Linked DNA regions of Homo sapiens. The protein of the gene in region 3 purifies or fractionates together with the protein of the main gene of each other region. This does not show direct contact. Each region holds a gene or a part of one and is shown on either strand. Other genes may lie near its edges. The genes, in order: SPRYD3, ARHGEF2 and FBXO45.

The links.
Region 1: the proteins of FBXO45 (region 3) and SPRYD3 purify together in Homo sapiens (affinity purification with mass spectrometry; one large-scale study listed by BioGRID and IntAct). This does not show direct contact.
Region 2: the proteins of FBXO45 (region 3) and ARHGEF2 purify together in Homo sapiens (affinity purification with mass spectrometry; one large-scale study listed by BioGRID and IntAct). This does not show direct contact.

The regions. Positions count from the first base shown.
Region 1 is NC_000012.12:53,069,344-53,072,992, reverse strand, and holds part of SPRYD3 (SPRY domain-containing protein 3), read left to right. Parts: intron 1-3,649.
Region 2 is NC_000001.11:155,957,899-155,961,547, reverse strand, and holds part of ARHGEF2 (rho guanine nucleotide exchange factor 2), read left to right. Parts: intron 1-3,151; coding exon 3,152-3,228; intron 3,229-3,649. UniProt on the Homo sapiens protein: Activates Rho-GTPases by promoting the exchange of GDP for GTP.
Region 3 is NC_000003.12:196,585,573-196,589,321, reverse strand, and holds the end of FBXO45 (F-box/SPRY domain-containing protein 1), read right to left. Parts: 3' UTR 263-3,749; downstream 1-262. UniProt on the Homo sapiens protein: Component of E3 ubiquitin ligase complex consisting of FBXO45, MYCBP2 and SKP1. Functions in substrate recognition but also plays an important role in assembly of the complex.

The DNA.
Region 1 (3,649 bases), on a different chromosome or scaffold from region 3:
GTCTTCTACAGCCCTGCACAACTGCCTTTGAGGGGCTGGGGGTTGATCTGGAGGCAAAATGCCTGGCCCAGGCTTTTCATTCAAAGTGTTGTGGGGCAGGTGTGGTCAGAAGTCCACACATGTGGTGGAAGGTTCTTAGCCATCTTTTTTGAGGAAGTGTCAATGTCAGTTTCTATTGTCTTATCCCTGCATTTGATAGAGGATTAGAATGGAGGCAGATAAAGATTCAGTGAGCATCCTTACACCTCCAAACTTGCTTCATTTATCTTTTCCTCATACCTGCTTTAGTATGGATTTTAAGCTTCGTTGGGAAGCGTGTGGAGCTTGAGAAAGGGGAATTCTTCCTCCCCGGATTTTAAGTTTTGTTGGAAAATTCATGAACCTTGAGAAAGGAAAATTCTTCCTGTCTGCCTCAATACACTGTGCTGCATTGGGAGTGAATGGACGCCAAGTCCGGGATCTGGCCCTGACCTCTAGTGGGCTGCTCAGCCCTCCCACTTCGAATTGTCCCTCTCCTACCCCCTTGCTCCTGGCCTGGCCTTTTTCTCCACCCTCTGGCCTTTCCACCCCAACCCAGGCTGTTTTCAACTCAGTCTTTGATAACAAAACAGAAGCAGTGGGGGGTGGGAGCGGATTAGGAGCCAGGCCTCCCCCTGGTGGAGTGGAACTCAGGGAAAATGACAGGAAGTGTGCCCTCCTGCTGCTTCTGACACTCTGCACCCCCGTCTGGCATCAGGGTCCCAGGCTGCAGCGACCGAGAGCTAAGAGGCCTCAGATGCCCACTCCGTGACTCTCATGTCTTTCCTTTTTCCCCTCAATCTACCATCATTCTGACAACATCTACAGAGTTAAACTTGGGGCTGCGCCAGGGCGATGTTCCAGCTCTCATCTCTGACCTCTCCTCAAGAGTTTTTTCCTGGCATCCTTTCTCTGCCTGGACCTGTCCCCACTCTGCTCTCAGCTCCTCCCAGGCAATCTTTTCTAATTGATGCAGAATCCTGTAGACATTTATAAATAGCCTTCCTTCCTCCCCACCCTCCCCCCAACACCTTCAGCCACTTATTTAAGAGTGTTTTTCTTTTTTAGACATAAGCTGTTGAATTGGGCCCTTCTCTCAGACCCTCACCCCAGCTTGGGCCAGGTGGCAGGGTGGGAGCACTACTCCTGGGGCACCCGTTCCTCTGGGGCCAACTTGGATGTGAGCTTCCTGAGGGACATGTGCCTTTTTCCAGTCATGCCAACTTTCCTTTTTTTTTTTTTTTTTTTTTTAAGACAGGCTATCACTCTGTCACCCAGACTGGAGTGCTGGTTCACTTCAGCCTCCAACTCCCAGGCTCAAGGGATCCTCCCACCTTGGCCTCCCAAATTGCTGGGATTAGAGGCATGAGCCACTGCCCTGGGCCTCAACAGTTGTTAGATTTGAGTCTTTGGATATAGACAGACCTGGCTCTTTCTTGAGTGGAATTCTTCCCCTGCCTCCTGTGGCCTGTTTCCCCCTCCTAAAGAGTCTACCTCCTCAGAGCTCTGAGGGGTTGAGGAATTGCTGGGGCACTTGCCTCTCACCTCATCCCTGCCTCCAGGCCTCGCAAAGTGAGGTAATGTGGTGGAGGGGAGCTGGGGGCGGTAGGTAACAGCTGGGGGATTAGACTCATTCTGTGTTTGTGCCCTGTTCACAGCTCCTCTGACAACTCCTTAGTGACAGGGGCAACAGCTTTGGTACACACAGGGTGGTGAATGAGGCCCCGCCCTCCCAGGGGTCCTCCCCAGACCCAGCCCAGAGGGAGGCTGTGCTGGAGCCTGAGCTGGCCAGGAGAGTGTGTACTTGGTTCCTGTTTCAGTTGCTTCTGGGCCCTCAGGGCACTGAGCCCTTCCTTGCTCCTGTCAAGAGGGATTAGGGTCTCTGCTGGCAAGGGGAGGAGGGCGGATACCGGCAGGGGAGAAGAGGCTGGGAAGGTGCTACTGGTAGAGGGAGGGTGTGGAGTGCACGAGACTGTCCACACTCTGGTCTGCAGCCGCCACTCTGTGGCACTGAGTCATGTCTTTGGCTTCTTGGGGCTTTGGTGGTATGTGTGTATTAGGGGGAGACCCAAAGAAAGGGCTCCATCTTCCCCCACCAAAAATGCAGAGAAACATTTCTGTTGATTGGACATTGTTTGAGAGGAGACACATAGGGTAGAGTTGTCTGGGGAGTGGCCATCGTCCTGGTTGGCCTAAGGGACCATTGTAGTTGGAAGTAAGGGCTAAGATGAAAGATCATTTCCTTCTTTGTGATCGGCAATTCCAACGTAACCCCATTTACACTGATTTAGGGAGAGGCAGCAATGTGTATTGGTCACTTCATTAAGTCTTCCCACTTGTTTTTGGAAATTCAGGTAATCTTATCCCAGTTTACTGTTGAAGAAACCAAGGCTTAAGGAGGTGAATGTCATTTGCCTGAGGTTAGCGGCTGTTAAGTAATAGGAGTTAGGATTTGAACCCAGGTCTGTTGGATTCTGAGGTACAGGTTGAGGGACCAGCATCAAGATCCTAACAGTTCAGACTCTAAGGGTTAACCTTCACTCCTCCTCTAGGTTCCTAACAGCTATAGACCAAGGAGGCAGAGGAATGTACTCAAGAAAGAATCTGTCAGGGAGGCCAAATATTCCCCCCACTTCCACCCCTCTGAGTTCTCTGGGAAGGCTCAGGAGGGGTCGGGGGAGCTTTGTCCAGGAGCAGGAGAGTGGATCAGGAGGTTTATGATGGCTTTCACTGTGAGGGCTGGGCGGTCCCCTCTGAAGAGGGCACGCTGTACAAGCCTCACCTATACACTGTACAAGTACCTAGTCGTCCAGGACATCAGCATTCTGTCCGAAGTGCTCTGTGGTTGGCAGGTAGAGAGTGGGTTTTAAAGACCCATGTTGGGGTAGTCCGTCCTGGCTTTTAGCGTGAGAAAGCACCTCCACCCTATCCAGAGACAGAAATGCAGCAGCTACCCTCTTCTGAGCTGAGGCAAAGGGAGGGGCTGGCCGGGTATTTCCCAAGGATCAGGGTCTGGATCGGCTGTCTTTTGGCTCTGGAAATGGAGAACACTGTGTTTCCTACACCGAGGCCAGTTGGATAGAATGGGTCAAAGGCAGCTGTGGGGTCCCCCACCCAGTTCTGCAATGCTGGGTGGAGAGGGTGGGCTGGGGGCTGCTCTGCCTGGGTGGAGTCTAAACTAGTTAATGTGGATCAAGCCACACCCCTCCTGGCTTCCCGGGGAGAGAGGCAGAGGAGGAACCCAGGCTGAGCAGAGAATACACCATGAACAGAAGTCAAACAGTGTGGCCTTGGGGATGGGCTTAGGTGGTCTCCCGTGCATGCTGCTTTCCCCCTCATCCATCCCCAGTTATCTTTGGAGAGGAGGGAAGGATGGACTTGAGGTGGCGGGGCTGAGATCCAGGGCTGAGAAAGGCACCAAGCCCCTCTAGTCCTACTCTCAGAAGGGGTTAGTAGCACCCCGCTCTAAGCACCTGAGCTAAGCAGCGGCCGTCTGAGGCTGGGAGTGGGGATGCGGGAGCAGCCTCTGCTGGAGACACGCACAGGCTTCTGTGCTGGTGCAGGTGGGCATAATTCCTTTCCTGTTCAGGCAGGAATCTGTGAGAGGTGAGAGGCCGGCGTCCCAAAGCTT
Region 2 (3,649 bases), on a different chromosome or scaffold from region 3:
AATCCCAGCACTTAGGGAGGCCGAGGCGGGCGGATCACGAGGTCAGGAGATTGAGACCATCCTGGCTAACACAGTGAAACCCTGTCTCTACTGAAAATACAAAAAATTCGCCGGGCGTGGTGGTGGGCGCCTATAGTCCCAGCTACTCAGGAGGCTGAGGCAGGAGAATGGCGTGAACCCAGGAGGCGGAGCTTGCAGTGAGCCCAGATTGCACCACTGCACTCTAGCCTGGGTGACACAGCAAGACTCCATCTCAAAAAAAAAAAAAAAAAAGAATCAACCTCCCTTTATGCAGCCCATACAACAGTGAGACTCAGTGGGAGAGAAAAATAGGATCTCTGTGGCAGAAAAGCCTGAATTCTGCAGTTAACTTTATGGACCATACAGGGCCTTCCCTATCAGTATTTTATAATTTCTTTGGTCCTTGCATGCCTAGAGAGCTACTAGTTTTACTGAGGAAGACAAAGAAGCTCTCAGACTGGAGGACAGGATCAGTTGATTCCCCCAGCTGGAATCCCAGCTACCAGGGATGGGAGTAAGCAAGAGCTTTGGGGAGCGCAGCCAGAGGAGGCCCAGAGGAGGGGACTGAGCCGGTGAAGGACAGGCAGGGAGGAGAAGAGACAGCAGGGCAGAGGGAGCAGATCAGGGGCCAGGGCACACTTTCCCAGGCTCTCTTTCCAGAATTTGTCTGCACTGGCAAAGTCTTTCTCACCTAAATCAAAGCAAGAGAATAGCAGGCCTTGGCTTTGGGGATGAGATGTGAGGGACAATAGGAAACTGTGATACCTGAGGCCAAAGCCTGCCTGAGCCTCTGTACCTGTGTCATGAAATCCCTGCTCCCTGGGTTTGGATATTGTCAGTCTTCACCAGCCTCTTTCCTTTATCCCTTTCTCTCCTTCCCATCTCTCCCACGCAGCAGCTAAGAATATAAACCATGGGGGATTAAAAATAGCAAGGCTGGAGAGTGTTATTTCTGAAGCATTTAGCAAAAGCCCTCCCCTTCTGTGTGCCCACAGTTTAGTAAAATCCCCAAGGGCAAAGGAGGAGTGTATGTTTTCTCTCTCTTTTTTTTTTTTTTTAGAAACAGGGTCTCGCTTTGCTGCTCAGGCTGGGGTGCAGTGGTGCAGTCATAGCTCACTGTAACTCAAACTCCTGGGCTCAAGTGATCCTTCTGCCTTAGACTCCTGAGTAACTGGGACTACAGACCTGCACCACCACACCCAGCACATTTTTAAATTTTTTGTAGAGATAAGATCTTGCTATGTTGCCTAGGCTAGTCTTGCTCAGACTCCTGGCCTCAAGTGATTCTCCTGCCTCAGCCTCCCAAAGTGCTGGGATTGTAAATGTGAGCCACTATGCCTCGCCCTCTGTTTTCTTGATTGTGACATCCAAGTTTTATGGAATTGATCTTTGTTTCCTCCCTCAGTCTTGGAGTGCTGACCCCATAGGATCTGAGAGCTTGGAGTGTGAAGCAGAGAAAGAAATTGAAGCAGGGGCCTGCTGGGGTTGAAGGAGATGGGTGGGTGAGGGATGGTCTTTCAGTCCTCTGCGAGAGGAAGGAAACTTTCTCCCTCCCTACCAAGCTCAAAATTAGAAGTGGGAATATGCCAGGACAGGGAGAATTTAGGTCAGATAGCCGTAAAGGTCTTCCTTAGTTAGATATTAGAAATGGAATTTAAAGGCTAAAAAATGTGGTCCAGGCTGGGCACGGTGGCTCATCCCTATAATCTCAGCACTTTGGGAGGCTGAATCAGGCAGGCAGATCGCCTGAGGTCCGGAATTCGAGACCAGCCTGGCCAAGATGGTGAAACCCCATCTCTACTAAAAATACAAAAATTAGCCAGGCATGGCAGCATTCACCTGTAGCCACAGCTACTTGGGAGGCTGAGGCATGAGAATCGCTTGAACTCAGGAGGCAGAGGTCACAGTGAGCAGAGATCACACCACTGCCCTCCAGCCAGGGCGACAGAGCGATACTTGGTCCCAAAAAATAAAAAATAGGCCAGGCGCAGTGGCTGATGCCTGTAATCCCAGCACTTCGGCAGGCCAAGGCAGGCAGATTACTTGAGGTCAGGAGTTAGAGACCAGCCTGGCCAACGTGGTGAAACCCCGTCTCTACAAAAATGCAAAAAATTAGCCAGGTGTTGTGGCGTGCTCCTTAATCCCAGCTGCTCAGGAGGCTGAGGCAGGAGAATCGCTTTTTCCTGGGAGACAGAAGTTGCAGTGAGCCAAGATGGCACCACTGCACTCCAGCCTAGGCGACAGAGTGAGACTCCGTCTCAAAAAAATAATAATAGAATCAAATTAAATTAAAAATAAATAAAAAATAAAAGTATGGTCCCTCTTGCTCTGGGGAACCTTATGAATCTCACAAAAATCTTGGACCCTGTCACCCAAAAAAATACACGAGTTATGTTAATATGTAAAACTATTTACACACCTTCAGAAGGTTTACAGAGCCACTGAAGCCTGACATCCCAGGGGGTCTGTAGGCCCTAGGTTAAGAAACCTGAATCAGTCAGGTAGAAAGGGTTTTCTGTAGACACTGAGTGATCCCTGTGGTTCCTGCTAGCCCACAACGCTGTTTTGTCTGATAGCACATGAATCTTTCTGCACCCTGCCCGCCCCCCACCCCCCACCCACACTGTTTTTAAGCTGTAAGAATGTGTGACCAGGCGCGGTGGCTCATATCTGTAATCCCAGCACTTTGGGAGGCCGAAACTGGTGGATAAACCTGAGGTCAGGAGTTTGAGACCAGCCTGACCAACATGGTGAAACCCCGTCTCTACTAAAAATACAAAATTAGCCGGGCATGGTGGCACACGCCTGTAGTAGTCCCAGCTCCTTGGGAGGCTGAGGTAGGAGAATCGCTTGAACCCGGGAGGCGGAGGTTGCAGTGAGCCAAGATTGCACCATTGCACTCCAGCCTGAACAACAAGATGAAAACTCTGTATCAAAAAAAAAAAAAAAAAATAGAATGGGTGAGGTGTGAGAGGTCTGAAAAAGTGCAAGCAGCCAGAGGGAAGAGAGGCCAGGAAGAGGGAAACTGGGAGCTCTAACCTGATGGGATAAGCCTGGTCCTTGGGAAAGAGGGAAGCAGCTGCTCAGACCGTCTAGTGCTGACTGTTCTCCCACCTTCATCCCCTTCCAGATGTGCTAGTGCTGCTGATGACAGATGTACTGGTGTTTCTCCAGGAAAAGGACCAGAAGTACATCTTTCCTACCCTGGTGAGACATTCATTCTTCACCTTTCTCAGCACAGACAAGTGTTTTAGTCTCTTCTTGCTTTCCTGCCCAAGCCCACGAGAGCTCTGGAGTCCCCCAGAGTCAAACAGCTATAATTGTTACTATTACCGTAATAATAAAAAATAAGAGCAGCTCACAGGTACTGTTACTGTGCACAGGCACTTTTACACCTGTGGGAAAAGATTATTTTCGTCCTCATTTTATAGATGATGAAAGTAAAGCTTCAAGTCAGTTAAATAATTTGTCAAGGGTTGCACACATTTCTAAGTCCCTTCTGGCTGGCACCAGTGCCTGGCTCTTAACTGGTATTGTAAGATGACTCTTCAGTCCTTTCAGTCCTCGTCCAGAAGGATTGAAGGCCTAAATATGCCAAGGGACAGGATTCCCAGGCTTAATCCTTCCT
Region 3 (3,749 bases):
CTTGGCAAACAACTGCATTATCAAACAAATGTCAGCAGGAGGGTGGGGTGGGGGGCGGTAGAGGCAATTGGGAAATAAGACCCTAGTGAATTACTGTTCTCTGTCCACTTTCCATTCTAAACATGGGGAATGTGGATTCTATTATTAAAGCCATGGAATTTATAGGTAAATTCCATCACCACCTCTGGCTATTAAGGCACCCCAATTTTTCTTTCTAACCAATGTGTAAAAAATGTCTTTAAATGTAAGCAATCACAGGTGGTTAATGTTTAACTTTTTATTAAGAAACTAAGGCAAAACAACAGAATTCCAAAAAATAAAGATACAGAATTCTAATTTAAATTCTAAACAAATATAAAAATCAGAGTTTACCAGTATTTTTGAGTAGAGGGGAGTGGCTAAATGCATTCACAGTAATTATTTCTTCCTTACCAGCCTCAAGTTTGCAACCCTTTCCTTCCTGCTTCACTGGGACTAGAACAGAATTTCTCATTCATCTTTTGCTACTATAATTTTTGCTTCTATAGTCTAAAACTTCAGAGGAGCTTTTGTCTTTCTCCGCAGTTCTTTCTCTGTTCCTTCAGCAAATATGTGAGCACCTGCCTATTGGGCTTACATGTTGTGGCACAAAGATGAGTCCGTTAGAGATCCTGTCCCAGTTTAGGGGCGATATGACACCAATAAATAATCAATAAATAATTTTAAACAAGGTATAAATAAATACAGCATGAGTCAACTATAGATATATAAAACTAGGGAAATTTCAAGGAGAGATTACATTCAGCTAGAGAAACTGAGGAATGTTTTTGAGGACAGCATTTGGGCTGGGTGTGGGCTGTTCCTAATAAAGGCTTCCAAGTGGTCCTGATTATCTACCACAGTCCCAATTGTGGAACTGTGGTGGTCTCAATTTCTGGAAAGTAATCTTTTCAATGCTAACCTTTAAAACTCCTTAAATTTCTGGCCTGGCACGGTGGCTCGCGCCTGTAACCCCAGCACTTTGGGAGGCGAGGTGGGTGGTGTTGGCCAGGAGTTCAAGACCAGCCTGGCCAACATGGCATAAACCCCCTCTACTAAAAATACAAAGATTAGGCCCGGGAACAGTGGCTCATGCCTGTAATCCCAGCACTTTGGGAGGCTGAGGTGGGTGGATCACAAGGTCAGGAGTTCGAGACCAGCCTGGCCAACATGGTGAAACCCCGTCTCTATTAAAAATACAAAAATTAGCCAGGCATGGTGGCAGGTGCCTGTAATCCCAGCTACTCGGGAGACTGAGGCAGGAGAATCACTTGAACCCGGGAGGCAAAGGTTGCAGTGAACTGAGATCACACCACCGCACTCCAGCCTGGGCAACAGAGCAAGACTCCGTCTAAAAGAAAAAAGAAAAAAATTAGCCAGGTGTGGTGGCACATGCTACTCGGGAGGCTGAGGCACGAGAATTGCTTGAACCTGGGTGGCAAAGGTTGCAGTGAGTCAAGATCGTGCACTCCAGCCTGCGTGACTCTGTCTCCAAAAAAGAAACACACACACCACTCCCTAAGTTTCTATCTCTTCAAATTACTCACTTCTTCAAAATAACAAAAAAAAATTAATATTAATATGACAATCTACATAGTTTGGGGATTTAAAAGTTAAAGCTGGGTATAGTGGCATACACCTGTAATCCCAGCTACTTGGGAGGCTGAGGCAGGAAGACTGCTTGAGCCCAGGAGTTCAAGACCTGCCTAGGCAGTAGAGTGAAACCCTGTCTCCAAAAACAAACAAAAGTTCATTATACAGTAGTAGTTTCTTTATGGTTTAGGGCTCTGCTATTTTTGAAACTCTTTCTCCAGTCAAATAATTCTAAAAGGCAGAAAATGCCTAATCACTGAACAATGATTTTAAATATTAACTGGGTAAATCTTACTTTCTTTTGGTGTCTTATTGAATCCATATCTACACTTTATGTGAATGAGGGAGATGAAATAAATGGCTTAACATTTAAGTCAAATAATGAGAAAATAATGGCAACTATGAAATGACATTAACCACAAATTCCTTGTATGAAAAGATTTAATGAATTATGAGCCATTGATCATTACAAACTTTAAGCCTTAATATTTCTTCTTTCCTATGTAAAACCAGGTAATTAAAACAGCCTGTCTCAGTATGACAGAAGACCATAGTAGGGATAATAGTAACGTCTGCTTCCACATCTGCATGCTTCGTTAACCAACCAAAGAAAGTGCTCCAGGTTTCCCAAGTCAACAAAGTATACTCAGTTACACTTTCCCTGATCATACTATGAATTGAAACAGAACACTCCTTTGACTTTTAATAGCACTTTTCATCCACGGCACAAGCACTTTCCCATTATTTTCTCCTTTACCCTCAATATCCTTGTGAGGTAGTGAAGGGAGGGAGCAAGGATTTTTTTTTTTCTATTTTGCAGATGAGAAAACTCAAGGTGAATTTTACAACAGTGGTTCTCAACCTTGGCAGCATATTGAAATGACCAGAAAGTTTTTAAAAATCCTTATGACCAGCTCATATTCCAGACCAACATCAGAATCTTGGCATACGGAACCCAAGCATCGATGTGTCTTCCAACATTCCAAAGTGACTACAAAGTGTATACAGCCAACACTGAGAACCACTGGTTTGAATGATTTACACTCAATCTTCAGGCGCAACTGTCTTCTACCGAAATGCTCTCCTCAGCACCAATGACAAAGATATTCCATCTCCTTGAGCACTGCAGCAGTTTAAGATTTTGTAGAGCTACTACTGGGTTTTAGTGACAAATTTACGTAAATGAAGGCCCTCATGACCCAGATGCTCATGCTGCTCACTTCAATTGCATATGATTTGCGAATGGGACATTCGGGAATTTAAATCTTTGAGATAAGAATGGCTTGTTGTTAAATATTGAGGCAATTATTTCATTCTAGGTCCAATACGCAATAACCATGTGTTTCGGTTTTCCACTCAGCACCTTCAAAACTGTTGCAAATGAATGTTTACTAACAAGACAAAAGAGACAATTATAAACCAAACTCTCAACAAAATTCGGAATGGCCACATCACAACCTGAAAAAGAAACAAGTACTTAAAGGACTTGATCACTTCCTAACAAGTCCATCTTCAACCTGAACCACTTCTCTTGTTTAATCAAATTTTAAACTTTGCCGAACTGAGTTGTTCTACACCAAGAAAAATCAATTTCTATACCACCTACATTCTCTAATACATTTAACATATAATTTCACTCAATACAAGGAGGTTTCTTCTTAACCTGGACATCGAAAAGAATCTTTAACAGATTTCATCTTTTCAAGCAATGTATCAAATACACAATAAATACTTGTAAACTTTTCAGGTGGCAACAATAAATCTTTGTTCTATGGCTGAAATCCCTTGCTTCACAGGAGTATTGACAATCTTAACTCCCAAGGAGCAATCCAAGAATCCCGGCCAGCTGCTGGGTGTCCCTAATCAGATTTAAAACAAAACATACATACAGCAAGAACTCAGAAGTACAAAGATTTCGCTCGCTTTTGTCAATTCTTATGTATCTAAAACCATACAATTTATACTTTCATACAGAAAGATGTCTGTTTCTTTTCTAACAAAAGAAAAACTCTCAGCTCATGTGGGTTGGATTATTAATTCAAAAGCATTTTAGTGATGAGAAACAAGATTTGTAAGTCAAAATAGGAGTTAATGTTAAACTCTTCTACAACGAAACCTTCAAATATTGCCAACCTGAA